Homo sapiens: one gene and its partners. The protein of the gene in region 1 purifies or fractionates together with the protein of each later gene. This does not show direct contact. Each region holds a gene or a part of one and is shown in the gene's direction. Other genes may lie near its edges.

What was found.
Region 2: the proteins of ZNF136 (region 1) and SLC2A9 purify together in Homo sapiens (affinity purification with mass spectrometry; one large-scale study listed by BioGRID and IntAct). This does not show direct contact.
Region 3: the proteins of ZNF136 (region 1) and STAT4 purify together in Homo sapiens (affinity purification with mass spectrometry; one large-scale study listed by BioGRID and IntAct). This does not show direct contact.
Region 4: the proteins of ZNF136 (region 1) and ANKS3 purify together in Homo sapiens (affinity purification with mass spectrometry; one large-scale study listed by BioGRID and IntAct). This does not show direct contact.
Region 5: the proteins of ZNF136 (region 1) and SHCBP1 purify together in Homo sapiens (affinity purification with mass spectrometry; one large-scale study listed by BioGRID and IntAct). This does not show direct contact.
Region 6: the proteins of ZNF136 (region 1) and DHX32 purify together in Homo sapiens (affinity purification with mass spectrometry; one large-scale study listed by BioGRID and IntAct). This does not show direct contact.

Annotation. Positions count from the first base shown.
Region 1 is NC_000019.10:12,169,596-12,173,095, forward strand, and holds part of ZNF136 (zinc finger protein 136), read left to right. Parts: intron 1-3,500. UniProt on the Homo sapiens protein: May be involved in transcriptional regulation as a weak repressor when alone, or a potent one when fused with a heterologous protein containing a KRAB B-domain.
Region 2 is NC_000004.12:9,885,498-9,888,997, reverse strand, and holds part of SLC2A9 (solute carrier family 2, facilitated glucose transporter member 9), read left to right. Parts: intron 1-1,355; coding exon 1,356-1,431; intron 1,432-2,095; coding exon of another isoform or gene 2,096-2,238; exon of another isoform or gene 2,239-3,500. UniProt on the Homo sapiens protein: High-capacity urate transporter, which may play a role in the urate reabsorption by proximal tubules. May have a residual high-affinity, low-capacity glucose and fructose transporter activity. Transports urate at rates 45- to 60-fold faster than glucose.
Region 3 is NC_000002.12:191,060,495-191,063,994, reverse strand, and holds part of STAT4 (signal transducer and activator of transcription 4), read left to right. Parts: intron 1-1,074; coding exon 1,075-1,233; intron 1,234-2,173; coding exon 2,174-2,266; intron 2,267-3,500. UniProt on the Homo sapiens protein: Transcriptional regulator mainly expressed in hematopoietic cells that plays a critical role in cellular growth, differentiation and immune response. Plays a key role in the differentiation of T-helper 1 cells and the production of interferon-gamma.
Region 4 is NC_000016.10:4,710,272-4,713,771, reverse strand, and holds part of ANKS3 (ankyrin repeat and SAM domain-containing protein 3), read left to right. Parts: intron 1-3,500. UniProt on the Homo sapiens protein: May be involved in vasopressin signaling in the kidney.
Region 5 is NC_000016.10:46,600,880-46,604,379, reverse strand, and holds part of SHCBP1 (SHC SH2 domain-binding protein 1), read left to right. Parts: coding exon 1-152; intron 153-236; coding exon 237-405; intron 406-720; coding exon 721-841; intron 842-3,500. UniProt on the Homo sapiens protein: May play a role in signaling pathways governing cellular proliferation, cell growth and differentiation. May be a component of a novel signaling pathway downstream of Shc. Acts as a positive regulator of FGF signaling in neural progenitor cells.
Region 6 is NC_000010.11:125,860,793-125,864,292, reverse strand, and holds part of DHX32 (putative pre-mRNA-splicing factor ATP-dependent RNA helicase DHX32), read left to right. Parts: intron 1-3,500.

The DNA of each region.
Region 1 (3,500 bases):
GTACTGATTCTGAATTTTTTTTTTTTTTTTTGAGACGGACTCTCGCTCTGTTGCCCAGGCTAGAGTGCAATGGAGCGATCTTGGCTCACTGCAAGCCCAGCCTCCCGGGTTCATGCGATTCTCCTGCCTCAGCCTACCGAGTAGCTGGGACTTACAGGCGCCCGCCACCACACCCGGCTAATTTTTTTGTATTTTTATTTTTATTTTTATTTTTTTTGAGACAGAGTCTCTCTCTGTCCCCCAGGCTGGAGTGCAGTGGCGTAATCTCGGCTCACTGCAAGCTCTGCCTCCCGGGTTGACGCCATTCTCCTGCCTCAGCCTCCCAAGTAGCTGGGACTACAGGCGCCTGCCACCACGTCCGGCTAATTTTTTGTATTTTTAGTAGAGACGGGGTTTCACTGTGTTAGCCAGGGTGGTCTCGATCTCCTGACCTCGTGATCTGCCCACCTTGGCCTCCCAAAGTGCTGGGATTACAGGCGTGAGCCACCACGCCCGGCCATTTTTTTGTATTTTTAGTAGAGACGGGGTTTCGCTGTGTTAGCCAGGGTGGTCTCAATCTCCTGACCTTGTGATTCACCCACCTTGGCCTCCCAAAGTGCTGGGATTACAGGCGTGAGCCACCGCGCCCGGCCTTTTGTGGTTTCTTTGCCTCAGTCCGTTGCACACATGCTGCTGTCTGAGGCTGTGGGTCACCCAGGTTACTAACCATTCCACTGCTTGATTTGAGTTGTTAGTATTTTATCTGTTGCCAATGTAATTGTTGTTTTTGTCTCCAAGTGCTAATGCTTCATAAACTTCTTTTTTTTTTTTTGAGGCAGGTCTTCTTCTGTTGCCCAGACTGAAGTGCAGTGGTGCAATCACAGCTCACTGCAACCTTGGCCTCCCAGGCTCAAGCAATCCTTCCATCTCACCCTCCCAAGTAGCTGGGACTACAGGCGTGTGCCACATGCCTGATTAATGGTTGTATTTTTTTATAGAGATGGGGTCTTGCCATGTTGCCCAGCACTCAAACCCTTGGGCTCAGCACTGGGATTATAGGCATGAGCCACTGTGCCCAGCCATGCTTCATAAATTTTTTTTTTTTTTTCGAGACGGAGTCTCGCTCTGTCGCCAGGCCAGGCTGGAGTGCAGTGGCGCGATCTCAGCTCACTGCAACCTCTGCCTCCTGGGTTCAAGTGATTCTCTTGCCTCAGCCTCCCAAGTAGCTGGGATTACAGTCACATGCCACCACACCCAGCTAATTTTTTTTTTTTTTTTGAGACGGAGTTTCACTCTTGTTGCCCAGTCTGGAGTGCAATGGCAAAATCTCAGCTCACTGCAACCTCTGCTTCCCAGGTTCAAGTGATTCTCCTGCCTCAGCCTCCAGAGTAGCTGGGATTATAGGCATGCACCACCACGCCCGGCTAATTTTGTTTTTTTAATAGAGACAGGGTTTCTCCATGTTGGTCAGGCTGGTCTTGAACTCCTGACCTCAGGTGATCTGCTTACCTTGGCCTCCCAAAGTGCTGGGATTACAGGCATGAGCCACTGCGCCAGGCCCCACCCAGCTAATTTTTTTTATTTTTAGTAGAGATGGGGTTTCACCATGTTGGCCAGGATGGTCTTGATCTCTTGACCTCGTGATCTGCCTGCCTCGGCCTCCCAAAGTGCTGGGATTACAGGTGTGTGCCACCGCACCTGGCTGCTTTGTAAGTTTTTTATACATTGGAAAAAAAAATCCCTGGGATGTAGCTTATAGATAGATTGACTTGGGAATGCCAATGGAATATATGGATTAACCATCTGACCATGTATGCATGTGTATTTACTCCTTATAAGTAGTTCTCTTTATTTTTCTCTGTGTGATTACATGTTGCTTTTTACACTAGGATTGAGCATTTTTTCTGTGTGGCCTTTCATCTTCTGTAAAATAGTTTTCAGTCATCTTGTCACATTAAAGTCATTTGTATATTTATTGCTTCATTTCTTCCCTTTTTTCTTTTTTTAACTTACTCTGTAGGCTAATTCTTTTTCATTTATAGGGATTGCTAATATTTTGTTCCAGGGAGTGATTTATCTTTTCACTCCATTCTACATTTTGATGGACTCTTAAATTTTTTTGTTTGTTGGCTTTTTTGGCCGCCTTCTGCATGCACCATCATCAAGGGTGGGGAAGGGTACTCTTCTTGATTTTAATTGAGTTGACTTTGGCTCTTCCTTTCAGGCCTACTTAATTTTCTTGTAAGAGAACATTCTAGAGAGTGTATATTTAGGGCAACTTGAATCTGTGCTCCCAGGTTAAATAAAGAACACTCTCCCTACTGTCAAGTTGGAAAAAAAATTGTAACTTATGAAAGTTTGCTACTTTTTAAAATTTTAAAATTTTTTATTTTCTCTCTCTCTCTTTTTTTTTTTTTTTTTGGAGACAGAGTCTCGCTCTGCCACCCAGGCTGGAGTGCAGTGGCATGATGTTGGCTCATTGCAGCCTTCGCCTCCTGGCGTCAGGTGTTTCCAGTGCTTCAGCCTTCCGAGTAGCTGGGATCGCAGGTGTGAGCCACCATGCCCGGCTAATTTTTGTAGTTTTAGTAGAGACAGGGTTCCTGACCTCAAGTGATCTACTTGCCTTGGCCTCCCAACATGCTGGGATTACAGACGTGAGCCACTGTGCCTGGCTGCTTTTGTTTTTAAGAGGTTTGTGTTTTTCTGATTTGATCTTGTTTATAGCTGGAGACTGGCTAAAACTTTATCCCTGTCCTGGTGTGGCTCTGGGGGATTTCTTGGAGGATATTTAAAATGTGCCTTTCAAGGGATATTTCTTCATTCTGTTGGAGGGCCTGATGCCTAGATGTTATACCCATGACCAGGTGTCCCTCTCACAGCACACTTGTTTATACTTGCTCTGTACAAGCAGGCACCTTGTAGATCTTGTCTGACCATTGTCAGTTTAATCCTAGACTAGAGTAGCCACTAATCCGGTATCTATTAGTGGCTAATAAACACTACCACTCTGTTCCTACCAAGAGAGCCCCGATTATGATAGTAGTTAGGTTCAAATAGTAGTCAGGTGTGTCAGTTAGGCAATTAGGTGAGACTCGGAGGAGACAATTCAACAAACACAGGAAATAACAGAAGGAGTTTATTACTTATAAATCCCAGAGGCCGGCTGTGGTGGCTCACGCCTGTAATCCCAGTACTGTGGGAGGCTGAGGCAGGCGGATCACGAGGTCAGGAGATCGAGACCATCCTGGCCAACATGGCGAAACCCTGTCTCTACTAAAAATACAAAAATGAGCTGGGTGTGATGGTGCGTGCCTGTAATCCCTGCTACTCGGGAGGCTGAGGCCAGAGAATCACTTTAACCAGGGAGTCGGAGGTTGCAGTGAGCCGAGATTGCGTCACTGCACTCCAGCCTGGCGACAGAGCCAGACTCCATCTCAAAAAAAAACAAAAAAATTCCCGGAGAGAGGAGAGTAGCATGTCTTGTAGGCCAGCAGGTAGGTGGAACTATTTGTGACACATAC
Region 2 (3,500 bases), on another chromosome or scaffold:
CCATATCTGCATTTCCACCTCCCATCCCAGTGCCTGGCACCCAGGGGCAGCTCGGATCAATCAGCTGAATTAGTGAGTGAGTGAGTGACTTGGTACAGAAGCAAGCCATACAGTGTACAAGAGTCCATGAAGCTCCTCTCAACCCCTAAAGCTAATGGATTTGGACATAGAACAAGGGGAAGGAGGGAGTTCCCCATTCCTCTGTCTGCCCTCTGTACCCCTCGCCCTCCACTCCAGACTGTTTGCAGCTTACCCCCCCGCCGATGGTGCCCTCTTAGGATTCTATGCCCTTGTGTATGCTGAACCCCCTACTGGAACCTCTTTCCTTTCCTTTCCCACTGGGCTGACTCTGGCTCAGCCTACAGAGATGAACGCAGGCTCTTACCTTCCCTTCAAGTCAGGTGGCCTCTCCTGGGGCAGCCCTGGCACCCCCACAGATTCAGAACTGGTGACACTGTGTTCTAATGCTCAGCTGTCCAGTCTGCTAGAGCAGGAGCAATCCCAACCAGCACCAAGCCACCCACCCCCCGGATGAGTGACAGCTTCTCCAGACATATTCCATGAAATGAATTAACGCATCTCACACCTTGCAAGATGGCAGGGGTACAAATAAGGTCCTTTATGTAATAATATCAGAACTAAGATAACTTCTTTTAAGCAAAATATAGAAGCCTTTAAAATGTATATGAGGAAACATTCATATATATACATATATATATATATATGTATATATATACTTTAAGTTCTGGGATACATGTGCAGAACGTGCAGGTTTGTTACATAGGTATACATGTGCCATGGTGGTTGGCTGCACCCATCAACCCATCATCTACATTAGGTGTTTCTCCTAATGCTATCCCTCCTCCAGCCCCCCACCCCCCAAAACAGGCCCCAGCATGTGATGTTCCCCTCCCTGTGTCCATGTGTTCTCATTGTTCAACTCCCACTTATGAGTGAGACATGTGGGGTTTGGTTTTCGGTTCTTGTGTCAGTTTGCTGAGAATGATGAACTTTTATAAATGTGATAAAGCTGTGAAAATTGCTCATATTGCCTGATGCCAACTAAGCCCTCAATCAATGTGAGTTATTGATTTATTTACCACTTCCTGTATGCCAGGACTATGTCAAACTCATCACAGGCTTCATCTGATTTCATCATGGCTATAAAATAAGCAGATGGAGTGACCGAAGGGTTATCATTGTTCCCATGTTATAGATGCTGAAGCTGGGGCTTGGGGACATCAAGTGACCTGTCCAAGGTCACACAGATGGATGGAGGAGGAGCTGGGGTGGGAACTCAGGTCCTCCGGTCACACCATCACCTCCTCACCTGACCACTCCCTGTTCTCTCCCAGGACCACGCCCCCTGGGTCCCCTACCTGAGTATCGTGGGCATTCTGGCCATCATCGCCTCTTTCTGCAGTGGGCCAGGTAAGGCACCCCACCCTCCCCACTGCCCCGCCCAGGGACTCATGGCATCACCAAGCTGGGGGGCTCTCCTCATACAGATGGGGAACCCAGAGCCCAGAAGAAGCAAAGCCTGACTGGGGATGTGTGTCTGCTGCCTTTCTTTTGGCCCAATTTAAATGTAGCCGACTGTCTGCAGTCTATCCCACAGAAGGTGAAAGTGGACTCACCTGAAGATGAGTGGGAGATAATTTCCCACCACACAGCAAGAGCAGTTCATACGCGGGAGGGCTCTGATCCAGAGGTGACACTGGTTTGTGTTGAATCAAAGACAACCAAGTCACAGTCTGTGCCTAAGCAGTTACCGTCTATGGTGAAAGATGTGGCAATAATCATGTCTAAGACATATTGTTCATTGATTTTGTGTTATACTTGGCTAAGAACTTGACCTGTGTGAGCTCATTTAAGGCTCAGGACAGTGCCAAAGAAGACAGAGATGGAAGGTGACTTGCATGAGCGAGTAGGTGGAGTGGCCTGACTGCCAGGCCCAGGCCCCAACCACCAGCTTACATGGTAGCTGTGTGAGTGTGCAGCTGGAGTATCCCAGCCTCAGTTTACCTGGGACTCACTTCTAGCCCTGCTGTTTCCTAGCCATGGGTCAGTAGGAGAGACTTCTTCTCTTTGTTAGCCTCAGTTTCCCCATCTGTACAACGACAAGGATGCAATGCAACTGAGGACCCTACCATTCCCTGGCCCTGTGTCCACGTCCAGCAGGGACCTCCAGCAGAGTCCAAGGTCAGACTGAGAAGGGGGGCTCAGGGCAGGGTCTGACACAGCCATGTGCTCTCTCATGGGATGATATTCATGGCTGTTCTTTGGTTGTGTTTCTTGGTGGATGCAAACAGTAAGTTTCTATCAGAACAAAGGGAACTGAACTTCTGTTTCTCCCTTTGTGTTGCTGATTCTCGTAAGCCATTACATTCCAGGTTCTATTGCATTCATGGTGGATGGAAAGTGTCCATTCAGGACATCGGGATATTATAATAAGATGGCAAGGTGGCAAGGTGGGCCATGGAATGGTTGGGGAGGGCATCAGGTGCACATACATGCACACAGCACACACACACACACACACACACACACACACACACACACACACACACACAGTGCTATGAGGGTGGTCAGAACGGCTGCAAGAAAAAGAAAGCAAGCACCTCCCAGGCAGGGCAGCGAATTAGAGGATGAACACACAGCACATGTTGTAGTTTACAGTGGACGCGAGGAGTAAATGTGTTTAGTCTTCCAGGGCATCTGCATCACAACCTCACATCCACATCTTCACATCAGTGCTCTGGAGGTGTCCAGCCTACGGCCCTATGCTAGCCTGGGGACATGCGTGAGCAAACCAGACAGGAGCAGTCTCTGCTCCCAGAGGGGCTTGCCTCTGGTGTGGAAGTCCCCTCTGAGATGTCAGCTGCTCAGTGAGGCCTCTCCTGGCCACTTATTCTAAAACCAGCACACACACATTTACTATATACACTCACACACACATGCACACCTACCCTCTATCTCATCACCCATCATAGCATTGTTCACAGGCATGTTGGTTTCCTGCGTACTCATTTGTTTAATGCAGACATGGGAAGATTTTTCCTGCAAAGGGCCAGGTGTAAATACTTTTATTTCACAGACCATGCATTCTCTATCACAACTACTCACCTCTGCCATGGTAGTGTGGACACAGCCATAGATAACGAGTAAATGAATGGACTGCATGGTTGTGTCCCAGTAAAACTTTATTTACAAAAGCAGGCAGTGGGCTGCATGCGGCCTGTGTGCTGCAGTCTGTCTTTAATGTGTGTCTCCTCCAGGCTAGAAAATAAGCTCCATGAAAGGACCTGGTGTGTGGTTCACAATCTTATCCTGATAACCTAGAACTGTGCTGAAGACATAGTAAGGCTCCACAAGTACTTGTTAGAGAGGGAATAAAATAACTGAGCAAAGGCTGGCAGGGAAGATGTGTGCTTTTGTGAGCAGCGTAACACGGGAGCCTGCCCTGGCAGCAGGGTTTTTCAAAACAAACCTTGGAGGAG
Region 3 (3,500 bases), on another chromosome or scaffold:
AAGGAACAATTGGAAAATATGAAAAAGAAAGAAACTGTTCAGTTAAAATCTAAAATTGATTCTTAAGAGAACAAGTCAAAACAATGGAATATGTAGTAACTGGGGACCCCCTCACTAAAAGCTCTGCCCTGCCAGGCCTACTTGTCAAGAAATGTAAGGAGTTTGACTCATTTTAAAACATTGATTTTCCTTGGGAAGACACTTTGATTTTACAACTCACTGTACTCTGTTGTGAAAACAATAATAAAGGGAGCAATAAAGATCTTAACCTATAATGGAGCTCATACCCCAAATCAGCAGGGATTCAACCACTCTTGCCATAGTCTTATATGTGGAATACTTAAAGTAGAAAGAGTTACTGTATGGCGAGGTGGACTTTCCAAGTCTGATAAGATGTTCTGTCTCCTGTGGTTGGAAGTCCCTTCCGTGTCCATTTCAATCTTACTCTTTCCTAGGCTTCTGGCCCACACTGCCACCTCCGTTTCTGAGGTGAGATCACCACATAGTGAATAAAATTCCAAGCAGTTATCAGAGGCAAGCATTTCTAAATATACCTTACTCTAAAGAGAGTCATTGATCACTTTTGGCTAGTACTTAGGACTTGTAAAAATATATATTGTGTGGGAAGATCGGTTACATATGTTTTTCTTTCAGTATGCTTACATAAGAAAACATTAATCATGGCATTTTTTTATGGCTTTAAATTTGCTCTTTTTTTGCCCTTTAGTGAGCGCCACATTTTTAACATATAGATGCTTAATAAGCTTAAACAAAGAATGATTAAAAGGGATTTAGTTCCAAATGTTGATAAAATTTCATAAATGATGACATATATAATTGAAGGTTTAAATAAGAAAACATTGAAAACATTTAACATATGCATATTCAAGAAAAAAATGGGTTAGGAAAATAAAAATAAAAACTGTCTCTAACCTAAATCAAATTAAGTGATTCATTTAATTAATTTAATAATTACTTAATAATTTAATGTTTATTAACTATGACCCATTGTTACAATGCTTTTTTATTATTAAGTGGAAAAACTATCTTTGATTTTCATTTTCTGTTCAATAGCTTTACACTATTGGCAGAAAGTCTTTTCCAACTGAGAAGGCAATTGGAGAAACTAGAGGAGCAATCTACCAAAATGACATATGAAGGTGATCCCATTCCAATGCAAAGAACTCACATGCTAGAAAGAGTCACCTTCTTGATCTACAACCTTTTCAAGAAGTAAGTGAAGTGCTATCAATGGCATCCTCCATTCTGTGAAGTAAGAACACCCTTCCTAAGGTTTTGGTGTTTAGGTGGAAGAGTGGCAGGGAAGTATTCAACAACGAGCCTCAGGGAGAAGTGAATAGAACCCCAGAAAGTTTTAGAAACCACATTTCTACTCTTCACTATTTATTCATCAACACTTCTCTCACCAACTGGCTCAGTTTTCCACAAGCTAAGTCATGTCATTCACCTACAGCTCAGTTTTCACATCTTAGAAAAAATTTCAAGGGTTTTTTCTTATGTGCATATCCATGAAATGAAGGATGGAGAACATTTTCATGTTTATAAGCTAAAGAAAAAATACTAATATGTACCAGAAATCCTAATATTTAGTCCAAAAAAAGTCATGAAATTTATTTTTGGCCAGGTATGGTGGCTCACACCTGTAATCTCAGCACCTTGGGAGGCTGAGGCAAGGGGTTGCTTGAGCTCAGGAGTTGTAGAACAGCCTGGACAGCATAAAAAGACCCCCATCTCTACAGAAAAATAAAAAATGTATCCAGGCATGGTGGCACATCCCTATAGTCCTAGATACTCAGGAGGCCAAGGCAGGAGGATCACTTGAGCTCAGGAGGTTGAGACTGCAGTGAGCTATGATCGTGCCACTGCACTTCAGCCTGGGCAACAGAGGGAGACCCTTCTCAAAAGAAAAAAAAATTACTAAATGGACTGGGGCTTTTATTCATGACTCAATTATAACAATTAAGAATCATTTACTGCTGTGAAATGATTTATAAAAAGTCATTGTAAAGATTTGAGTTTAATTGGGGGTTTGAATATCTTCTAAGTGTAGAAAATTTGGACTTTGAGTGGATAGCATCCTGTTCCTCTGTGGTTTTCAGTCTCAATATTTTCAGTGTTTTCAAATGATGCGCTTTATTTCCTTTTCATCTAGCTCATTTGTGGTTGAGCGACAGCCATGTATGCCAACCCACCCTCAGAGGCCGTTGGTACTTAAAACCCTAATTCAGTTCACTGTAAAACTAAGGTAGGCAAAAACATTTTCTACTATTTCGTGTGTTTGTGGAGCTATAGTCTCTGGATGATCAAGGCCAATTTCTCTCATTGTGGCTTGCATTCAGCTGTTCTTTATTGAACCATCTGCTGTGTGCCCAGCTCTGAGCTTGGGGAAATACCCACAGAAATGTGAAGATGAGAGCCCTGCTTGTCAAGAGCATGACAGTGCAGATGAGGACATAAGGGATATTAGCCTGAAAGTATGGAATCATAATATCAGGCACAATGAAATTAATTGCTGAAAAGGTTGACTTGAGAAAAGACTGGAGAGATTGGGAGAGGGGAGGAGGATTGTAGGAGAGTGAGAATACAGAAATAATGGCTTCCTGGCTCTGTCTGGTAATCGTGGGGAGCAGGGAAGAGACAGAATTGAGAGGACAGATTGGGGACAGATTCTGGAAGGCTTTGAATATCCTATCCAGGAAACACAGTGGCACATTCATCTCCTGAGATTACCCAGTAACTGGCTTATTAGACTTTCCACAAAAACTCCCAATACCACAGTTTTCCATATGTCCCTATTGTGTACCTGATTTAAAGACATAACTTTTGTGTTATTGTTGCTTTCTCTGTGAATTTGATCCTATTAGCATTAGCGTCAAAACTTACAGTTTTCCCTAATGATGCTGAGAACAATGAGTTTGAGTTCTTACTTTCAAAGGTTCTCATCATGCCTGAAACTCCAAGCACTAAAGTTTTAAAGGCCTAATCACTAGGTCACCTCTGGAAAGCTGAAACCACAGACTAACAGGTCAAGAGGTGGTGATGCCATGGTACAGAGCAGTTTAGGGTTCTATGATAAGGTTGCTGATCACATATCACTATTGGAACTCCATTTTTAAAGAGAAGGCATTTGTCTTCGGTTTGCATTTTTAAGACACCATTAACTTCTTAATCAGTTTCTTTGTATGAATTTTGCACCAAGATTTAAGAACTGAAAACAAAAGGCAGAGGCCAGGTTCCTTTTTAAATTGCACTGTTGGCCAGGCATGGTGGCTCACGCCTATAATCCCAGCACTTTGGGAGCCTGAGGAAGGCAGATCACCTGAGGTCAGGAGTTCAAGACCAGCCTGGACAACATGGCAATACCCCATCTCTACTAAAAATAGAAAAATTAGCTGAGCATGTTGGCTCATGCCTGTAATCCCAGCTACTTAAGAGGCTGAGGCAGGAGAATCGCTTGAACCCAGTAGGTAGAGGTTGCA
Region 4 (3,500 bases), on another chromosome or scaffold:
CTGTTTTCACTGTTTCCTGAGCTATGGCTTGTTCATTCTTCTATATGAACTTGAATATCAACTTGTCTAGCTCCTTAAAAACAGTATTGATATTTTTACTGAGATTGTGACAATGTATAAATTAACTATATCTTTGTGTTGTTGTCTTATCCAAGAACAAGGGATGACTTCTTGTTCCAATGTACTTTTGGGTCTTGCAGGAGGGTTTTAAATTTTTCTTCATCTACATTTTGCATGTGACTTAAGTTTATTCCTAAGTGTTTGATCATCTTTGTCGCTATTGTAAATGGGGTTTTCCCTATCATTATATCCTTTTTTTCCCCCCAACTCTCAGGGTATTAATTATTCAGTGCTATTTATTTTTTATTTCAGTAGGTTTTTGGAGAACAGGTGGTGGTTGGATACGTGAATAAGTCCTTTAGTGGTGTCATTATATCGTTTCACTGCATATTGTCAGTGCATTTGAAGGCAGTGGATTTCTGCAAACTTTTGTTTTTTTTTTGATACGGGAGTTTCGCTCTTGTTGCTCAGGCTGGAGTGCAATGAAGCGATCTTGCCTCACCGCAACCTCTTCCTCCCAGGTTCAAGCAATTTTGCCTCAGCCTCCCAGGTAGCTGGGATTACAGGCGTGCACCACCATGCCCGGCTAATTTTTTGTATTTTCAGTAGAGATGGGGTTTCTCCATGTTGGTCAGGCTGGTCTAGAACTCGCAACCTCAGGTGATCCACCCATCTCAGCCTCCCAAAGTGCTGGGATTACAGGTGTGAGCCACTGCACTCAGCCCTGCAAACTAATTTTATATTCTGCTACCTTACAGAATTCTTACATTGTTCAGGTTAGTTTTGTTATTGATTCTTTAGGGCTTTACAGGTGTACTAACATATAATCTTTAAGTATCGATGGATACACTGCTTCCTGCTGATTCTCATGACTCTGACTTTGTTGAATTGCACCGTTCTTTTGTTTAGTTGCTAACACCTCTAGCTCATTGTTCAACATAGTGGAGATAGTGAGCCTCCTTACCTTGGTCCTGATCTTAGTGGAAATGCCACGTTACATGAGAGGCTGACTGTAAAAGGGAAGGCATATGTTATTTTAGCTTATTAACAAAGTATTCCTCAGTTCTTCTATTCCTGAGTGGTGTTTTACAGGAGTAACTATTGAATTGTGTTCCCATATCTTTGGAGACGATGGTGAATTTTCATATGGTAGATTGTCTTCATGAACCTCCTAATAATGAATCAACCTTACATTCTTGGCATAAATCCCACATGTTGTACTATTTTAATGTGTTTTTGAATTCTGTTTATTAATATTTAGTATTTTTCTATGGATATTCAGTCATAAGTGATACTGGTCTATAGTTTTCTTTCTTCTTTTTTTTTGTTTTTGAAATGGAGTCTTGCTCTGTTGCCCAGGCTGGACTGGAGTGGCGAGATCTCAGCTCACTGCAACCTCCGCAACCTCCGCCTCCTGAGTTCAAGCAATTCTTCTGCCTCAGCCTCCCGAGTAGCTGGGATCACAGGCGTGCACCACTACACCCAGCTAATTTTTGTATTTTTAGTAGAGACGGGGTTTCACCATGTTGGCCAGGCTGGTCTCGAACTCCTGATCTCCAGTGATCCGCCTGCCTCAGCCTCCCAAAGTGCTGGGATTACAGGCGTGAGCCACCGCTCCCGGCGTGGTCTATACTTTTCTATTTTTGTTCTGTCTATCAGGTATGGGTATCAGTGTTTACTTCATAAAAATAATTTGGAAGTTTTCCTTCCTTTTTTGTGTTCTAGGACAATACACGTAGCATTAGTGCTACCTGGTCTTAGAAGTTTTGATAGAATCCTCCCATGAAACCATCTGGTCTCTTTCTGTGAGGTGGTTCCTCGATAACAGTTTTTCTATTTCTTCTATAGAGATTGGCCTCCTCATACTTTCTTTTCTTATGGGGTCAGTTTTGGTAAATTATATTTTCCTGAGAGATCACTTCATCTAGGATTTCAGACTTATCTGCAGAGGTCTACAAGATAATATTTTCTCCCTTTTTTTTTTTTTTTTTTTGAGACAGAGTTTCACTCTTGTTCCCCAGGCTGGAGTGCAGTGGCTCGATCTTGACTCACCGCAACCTCTGCCTCCCGGGTTCAAGTGATTCTCCTGCCTCAGCGTCCCAAGTAGATGGGATTACAGGCATGCGCTACCATGCCTGGATAATTTTATGTTTTTAGTAGAGACAGGGTTTCTCCATGTTGGCCGGGCTGGTCTCAAACTCCCGACCTCAGGTGGTCTGCCCACCTGGGCCTCCCAAAGTACTGGGATTATAGGTGTGAGCCACCGCACCCGGCCAATTTTTTTCTCCTTTTAAAATATTCTGTTTCAGGGCCAGGCGCGGTGGCTTATGCCTATAATCTCAGCACTTTGGAAGGCCGAGTTGGGCGGATCACCTGAGGTCGGGAGTTCGAGACCAGCCTGATCAGTATGGAGAAACCCCATCTCTACTAAAAATATAAAATTAGCTGGGCGTAGTGGTGCATGCCTGTAATCCCAGCTACTCGGGAGGCTGAGGTGGGAGAATCCCTTGAACCCGGGAGGCAGAGGTTGAGGTGAGCCGAGATCGTGCCATTGCAGTCCAGCCTAGGCAACAAGAGCGAAACTCTGTCTCAAAAAAAAAAAAAAAAAAAAAATTCTGTTTCAGGCTGGGTGCAGTGGCTCATGCCTGTAATCTCAGCACTTTGGGAGGCTGAGGCGTGTGGATCACTTGAGGTCAGGAGTTCAAGACCAGCCTGGCCAACATGGTGAAACCCCGTCTCCACTAAAAATACAAAAATAAGCCAATGTGGTGGTGTGCGCCAGCTACTCTGGAGGCTGAGGCAGGAGAATCACTTGAACCCGGGAGGGGGAGATTGCAGTAAGCCAAAATCACGCCACTGCACTCCAGCTTGGCGACAGAGCGAGACTCCATCTCAAAGAAAAGTAAATAGATAAAATAAAACAAAATAAAATACTCTGTTTCAGTGGTTATTTTCTCCTGTTATTATCTTTTTTTGGCATGGAAAATATTGATTTATTTTTTGTGACAGGGTCTTGCTTTGTCACCCAGGCTGGAGTCCAGTGACCCAATCTCGACTCAATGCAACCTCCGCCTCCCAGGCTCAAAACGATCCTTCTACCTCAGCTCTACGAGTAGCTAGGACTGTAGGTGCACCCTACCACGCCCAGCTTACGTTTGTATTTTTTGTAGAGAGGTGGTTTTGCCATGTTGACCAGGCTGGTCTCAAGAGTCCTGAGCTCAAGCAATCCACCCGCCTCAGCCTCCCAAAGTGCTGGGACTACAGGCATGAGCTACTGCACCTGACCTGGAAAATATTTATCTCATTTTTAATTGACACAAAATAACTACATATTTATGGGGTACAGTGTGTGATGTTTTGATACATGTATACACTGTGTAATGATCAAATTAAGGTGATTAGCTTATCCATCACCTCAAACATTTATCATTTCGAGGTGA
Region 5 (3,500 bases), on another chromosome or scaffold:
TACAGGAAATTTTTAAATCTGAGAAGCAGTTTGTCAAATTGTAACTCTGATTCCGAGCAGGAAAATATCTCCATGGTGGAAGGGTTAAAATTGTATTCGGAGATGGAACAGTTGAAACAAAAGCTGAAACTCATTGAGAATCCTTTGTTGAGGTATGTGTGTCTTTGTAATTCTTAGTTAGTCAGCATCTTTTCTTACTTGCTGTCTTACTGATAGGCCTGTTTCGTTTCTTTAAGGTATGTGTTTGGTTATCAGAAGAATTCTAACATCCAAGCAAAGGGTGTCCGTTCCAGCGGTCAGAAGATCACTCATGTGGTCTCCTCCACCATGATGGCTGGTCTCCTGCGGTCCCTGCTTACGGACAGGCTTTGCCAGGAGCCTGGTGAGGAAGAAAGAGAAATTCAGGTAAACGGAGAGTTTCTCACTCCAGGTGGCTTTTTTTCCTTCTGATTCACCACAGGTTTTCACAAATCCCACAAAGTATTTACAGGAGCTTTCCCAAGACGGTTTTCTGTGCATGGGAAGTAGTGAGAGCCCTGCCTTTCATCAGCAGTAGTCACTTACCAGGCATGTGTTAGGTCAGTGCGCTATCAAAGGAGATGCTTCAATATGCAGTTTTTGGCTTCCATTTTCAAAGTAAGACATGAAGTCACCTAGAGTAATACTCAAATTACTTTTTTGGGAGTGTATATTTACAAATGTGTTCTTATTGTTTTCTAGTTCCATAGTGATCCATTGTCTGCTATAAATGCCTGCTTCGAAGGTGACACTGTTATTGTTTGTCCTGGCCATTATGTGGTACATGGCACTTTCTCCATTGCTGACTCCATTGAGTTGGAAGGTGAGTATGGAAGACACACAACCAAACTCTCACACGTGATATGTTTAAGTAAACAATAAATCACCAATCTTGTTGAAACTCCAAGAATGTGATTTGAACCCATTTGATTTCTAGTGAGCTGCCTTGAAACATTAAGGACATGGAAAGCTGAAAAGAGGTTGACCCAGTGTTTCAGCAATTTGAGTTGTGGTTCTTTGTAGCAGTGTGTATGTTGGGGAGATGTTCACAGGCTCATATAGAAAAAAGACCATTAGGAAGAAGCATACTTTCCAGATTGTAGGTGGTTTATGGAAAGGAAATCTAATTTCTAGAATTAAAAAAAAATTCCTAGCAATATTTTTAAAAATTTTAGTATTTTAAAAATTTGTTGCTTGCTCTTATCTCATAGATGTTGCAGATATGTTAGTGCATGGCTTTTTGTTTTTTGTTTCACACTTAGCTTATTTTCGTGAGAGGTATAATGAAGGGCATTTAACTTGAAATTGGTACCAATTATCTTAATTCTCTAAATGCTTGCCGAATGTCACAAATGCTACACTTTGTGTCTTGACCAAAGTATACTTTAGAAAAGATTAATGTTGAAAGATTCTATTAAAAATAACTTTTTGGGCTGGGTGTGGTGGCTTACGCCTGTAATCCCAGCACTTTGGGAGGCCGAGGTGGGCAGATCACTTGAGGCCAGGAGTTTGAGACCAGTCTGGCTAACATGGTGAAACCCCGTCGGTACTAAAAATACAAAAATTAGCCGGGCATGTTGTTGCACGCCTGTAATCCCAGCTACTTGGGAGGCTGAGGCAGAACAATCGCTTGAACCTGGGAGGTGGAGGTTGCAATGAGCCAAGATCATACTACTATGCTTCAGCCTGGGTGACAGAGCAAGACTCTGTCTAAAAAAAATAACTTTTTCACAGTTATAATCTTATTGTTCATTTAGAGTGATTTCTAAATTTAGGTTACTTTACAATTGTTCATCTTGGTCCTGTATATTTTCATAACATGTCAAATTTAGTTACACCTGTTCAACTATTTATCAAAATAGCTTCAAGTTAGCAGTGAAGCTTGTAATGCAAAAAATCATATATCATTTTGGGACTTGTGCAGCTGTTCAGAAACTGCTTAAGCTATGCTCTTTATCTTGTCAGTACTTCTAAATGGAACTGAAGCTGGAAGTTTAGTTTTCTCCTGTTCCTAGTACATCATCTCACCCCCTTTTTTATTTTATGTGTGTAATTTTTGTTCTTTTCTACTCTCCAATTTTTGATGTATAATAGATGTGTGTATATAAATAACACATCTGCAAGATAAATCACTGTGATAAAAACACTTTATTTTTTGGCATAGTGGAAATAACACTGATATTATAGTTTGTATGGTAGATAAGAGTTCTTCCTAGATTGGTGAGGAAATTTTAATGTAATTGCCAGAGTGTCATAAATGGACATATAGAATGCTGATAGTTAAGTATAAAAATGGCTGTATATTGACTAACAGTATGGGTCTGAGAATTGGGGAATCACAAGGTATCTCTAGTGTGCATATATGGAGTGTTCATGAGTAAGATTCAAGCTCATCTGATAGTGATCTATAGCTAACCAATATAACAAGAGATATATATTGAGTACCTACTATGTGCAGGGTGTCAATAGTACTTACAATAGGGTTTTTCTTTCTTGTTTTGAAAATCCATTCATTTAGGTAATGGTTTTATGTTTTAAGTGGAAAGAAATACATAATTATATAAAAATTTGTGTAAAAATCTTTTCTCAATATGCAATTCTTTTTGTACTTTTAATTTTTCTGATGATAAAAAGCAATGGTTATTGTAGAAAATATGCCAAGTACAGTCAGATACATACAACAATCAGAAACAAAATCACTCATAATTCAGGCATCCAGAGTCCACCCCTGGTAGCATTCCAGTGTGTGGAGTCCCCTTGCATTCTCTAGGGCCCCCAAAGCCTTGTTTGTCCTCTTCCAGTGTAGATACATTGAGCGGCTTTGCTTGTTAAAAACAGTTACTGCTTTCATTTACTCAAAGATTCGTCTTTAGTCAATGAGAGTTATTTCTTACAGCTTTGTCTATGTGGTTCTGTTTTATAATGGAAGTCAAGCGAATTCTTTAGTTTTCTGATACTCTAGTTTTTTGTAAGCCCACTCAGGTGTTTGGCTTGCATTAATGGTTTGAGTAAGATTTATACAGATCTGATGGTTTTTTTGTTTTTGTTTTTTTGAGGTGGAGTCTTGCTCTGTCGCCCAGGCTGGAGTGCAGTGGTGTGATCTCAGTTCACTGCAGCCTCTGTCTCCTGGGTTCAAGCGATTCTCCTGGCTCAGCCTCCTGAGTTGCTGGGATTACTGGTGCCTGCCACCATGCCTGGCTAATTTTTGTAGTTTTAGTAGAGACAGGGTTTCTCCATGTTGGCCAGGCTGGTCTCGAACTCCTGACCTCAAGTGATCCACCTGCCCTGGCCTCCCAAAGTGCTAGGATTATAGGCGTGAGCCACTGCACCTCACTGAGATCTGATGCTTTTTTTTTGAGACAGAGTCACTGTCACCCAGGCTGGAGTGCAGTGGCACGATCTCCTCTCACTGCAATCTCCGCCTCCCAGGTTCAAGCAATTCTCCCACCTCGGCCTCCTGAGAAGCTGGGATTACAGGCACA
Region 6 (3,500 bases), on another chromosome or scaffold:
TTTCATATCTTCACTTCACAGTTACTCTTGCTTCTGAACATTGTACTTTCTTTTCCACTGTGACATGCCCCCAGAACCAGCGCAGAGTCAGAAGATACTCTGATGCATTGTGGTAAACAGTGTTTGAGTCACAGGAAAGAGGCCAGAGCTATTGAAAAGACCCCTATGATAAAATAAAGCAACACCTGTTTTCTTCCTGGTATTCCATGCTCTGGAGAGGAGGCAACATGGCTGTCAAAGGGTGTCTCCACCACTTACTCACTTGTAACCTTATAGAAGTCACCTAACCTCTTTGACCTTTAAGTTGCCTCATCTGAAAAATGTGGACGATTAATATACTTGCTCTGAGGGTTGTTGTGAGGACTATTAAATTTATGTAACTGATGCATGGTGTATGTATGTGGTAGCTATGTTTATAATTATATTTTTATAATTATGATTAGAACAAGATTGATTTTCCTGAAGAGGTATGCTAGCCATAATTTTGAATAAGCTCAGATTGAATAGCTATTTAAATCAGAGGATTTAACATTGATCATTGATTGGCCGGGCACGGTGGCTCACGCCTGTAATCCCAGCACTTTGGGAAGCCAAGGCGGGCAGATCCCAAGGTCAGGAGATCGGGACCATCCTGGCTAACATGGTGAAACCCCGTCTCTACTAAAAATACAAAAAAAATTAGCTGGGAGTGGTGGCAGGTGCCTATAGTCCCAGCTGCTCAGGAGGCTGAGGCAGGAGAATGGCGTGAACCCAGGAGGCAGAGCTTGCAGTGAGCCGAGATCATGCCACTGCACTCCAGACTGGGCAACAGAGTGAGACTCCATCTCAAAAAAAAAAAAAAATTGATCATTGATTATAGAAGGCAGTAGTCTATATTTGATACTGTCTTTTTCATTTTTTTGGTAGCCCCTTAGTATCTATCAAACACATCATAGGCAATTAGTAAACTGTCTTTAAGCCTACTACTATTTTTTGGATGCTATATGTAACAACTTTGTTCTTCTTTAAGCTTTTCTCTGGCCTTTTTTGAAACAGTGAATACCTGAATATTATATACCTAAAATAGTCTTTAGGAACTACATATCAAGATATCTCATAGAAGTGACTCATAGTGTCAAATGGTGGTCTTTTCTGTTTTTAGAACTGGAAAATTCTCAAATTTTCATTAAGGTTAAACTCAATTATATAATTTTATAAAATATAAATATTAATAAAACTTTATTTTATTATAGTCTTAGCTTTTAGAAATTTAGCCTTAATTTAAAGATATAAACTGCATTTCCTGAAACCTTGGTAGTGTATCTATTTTTTTTACGTACTTATTAGTTAACAGCACTTTTTAAAGTATCATACACACAATATCTCATTACCATAAAGTTCAGAAACATATCTTTGTGTTATATAGAAAAAAAGTAGTTTTTTTTTTTGCTTTGTTTTGAGTTGGAGCCTTGCTCACATTGCACAGACTGGGATGCAGTTGTGGGATCATAGCTCACTGTAATGTGGGACTCCTCCTGGGCTGGAGTGATCTCCCACCTCAGCCTCCCAAGTAGGTGGGACTGCAGAAAAATGTGGGTTTGTATAGTAAGTTTTAGGATTGAGCCTTCACAATTCCCTTATATAATCATCTGTAAGGCTAGGCCTTGCTGGATGAGTCTGCTGGAGTTTTTAATAAGTTAGCATCTTCTCTTTTTTTTAATTAAGCCTAGATGTATTTACATAACACATAAACCTCCTCAATCTTATGGGGCAGCATTACTTCCTATAAGATCAGTGCTTAGGTGAGTTTTGCTGAAAAGGAAACAGAGATAACATTAGAAATTAAATCTCTAATTAGCCTCAGCAAAAAAAAAAAAATTGAAAACTAGATTTCAATGCATCTGTTGGCATCTTGCACAAAGTATAATACTATAGTATTCAAGATGCTTTATTTTCTAAGTTTGAGGAAAGGAATCATCAATTTATCACTGCTCATTTGAAAGACACAGGATGAGAACCTGTATGAAAAGAAAGGCAGAGGGCATACACTTTGATCTCATAAAGATCCAGAGAGGAAGAACATGGACTTTTATCACCAAAACTACAAGGCCAAGGAAGCAATCGTTATAATTTGACAGTGACAACAGATAGAACAACTATCTGGGTTTAAATCTTGACTCTCTACCTGGCTTTGTGACCTTGGGCAGGGTACTGAATTTTTCTGACCTTCAGTTTTCTCATTTATAAATGAGTCATAGTAATGGGATAGCAATATCTACTTTGAAGATTTATTCTGAAGATTAAATGAGAAACATATACACCAGCTTAGTGACTGGCTCACACTAGGTGCTTAATAGATGTTTGTTTACTTCCTTTTTTTTTTTTTCCTTGAAAGAGGTTAATTGAGGACTGTGTCAAGATCCCCAAGACTACCCCCGGGTTCAGTGATTTGCTAGAAAGGTTCATGGGATTCAGCATATTATTTACATATAACTAAGGTTTATTGCATTGAAAAGATACAAAGCAACATCAGCAAAGGGAAATAGTGGATGGGACGAAGTTTACAGGAACCCAGGCGCAAGCTCACGAGCTCTCGCCCAGTGAAGTCACAAACCGTGCACTTCATTCACAGCTCGTGAAATGGTGCCCTACCAGGGAAACTCAGGCTCAGTGCCCAGGGTTTTTATTGAGGGCTGGCCGTAGAGGCACCCTCTGCCTAGTATGTTTCAAAATTCCAGACTCCCAGAAGGAAAGCACATGTGCAGCGTAAAACATATTGCCTGTACAAATGGTTCAGGCACAGCAAACTACTCTTTTCTGGGGGAGTCTCGCTCTGTCGCCCAGGCTGGAGTGCCCTGGCGCAATCTCGGCTCACTGCAAGCTCCGCCTCTCCAGTTCACGCCATTCTCCTGCCTCAGCCTCCCGGGTAGCTGGTACTACAGGCGCCCGCCACTACTCCCGGCTAATTTTTTGTATTTTTAGTAGAGACGGGGTTTCACCGCGTTAGCCAGGATGGTCTCGATATCCTGACCTTGTGATCCGCCTGCCTCGGCCTCCCAAAGTGCTGGGATTACAGGCGGGGCAAACTACTCTTTATCAGTTCTGGGAATGGTGAGGACCCTCCCCAAATCTAAGTTCCCAAATGCTAGCCAAGGGCTAACCTTGCAGGCAGGCCTGTCGAAGGATAGCAATCTCAGAATTGCCATGTACAAGAATAAATAAAAGTAAATACCTTAAATGGGTAAAAAACATATGGGATTGGGGCCGGGCGCGGTGGCTCACGCCTGTAATCCCAGCACTTTGGGAGGCCAAGGTGGCTGGATCACAAGGTCAGGAGATCGAGACCATCCTGGCTAACACGGTGAAATCTTGTCTCTACTAAAAATACAAAAAATTAGCCAGGCGTGGTGGCGGGCGCCTGTAGTCCCAGCTACTCTGGAGGCTGAGGCAGAATGGCGTGAACCCGGGAGGCGGAGCTTGCAGTGAGCCGAGATTGCGCCACTGCACTCCAGCCTGGGCGA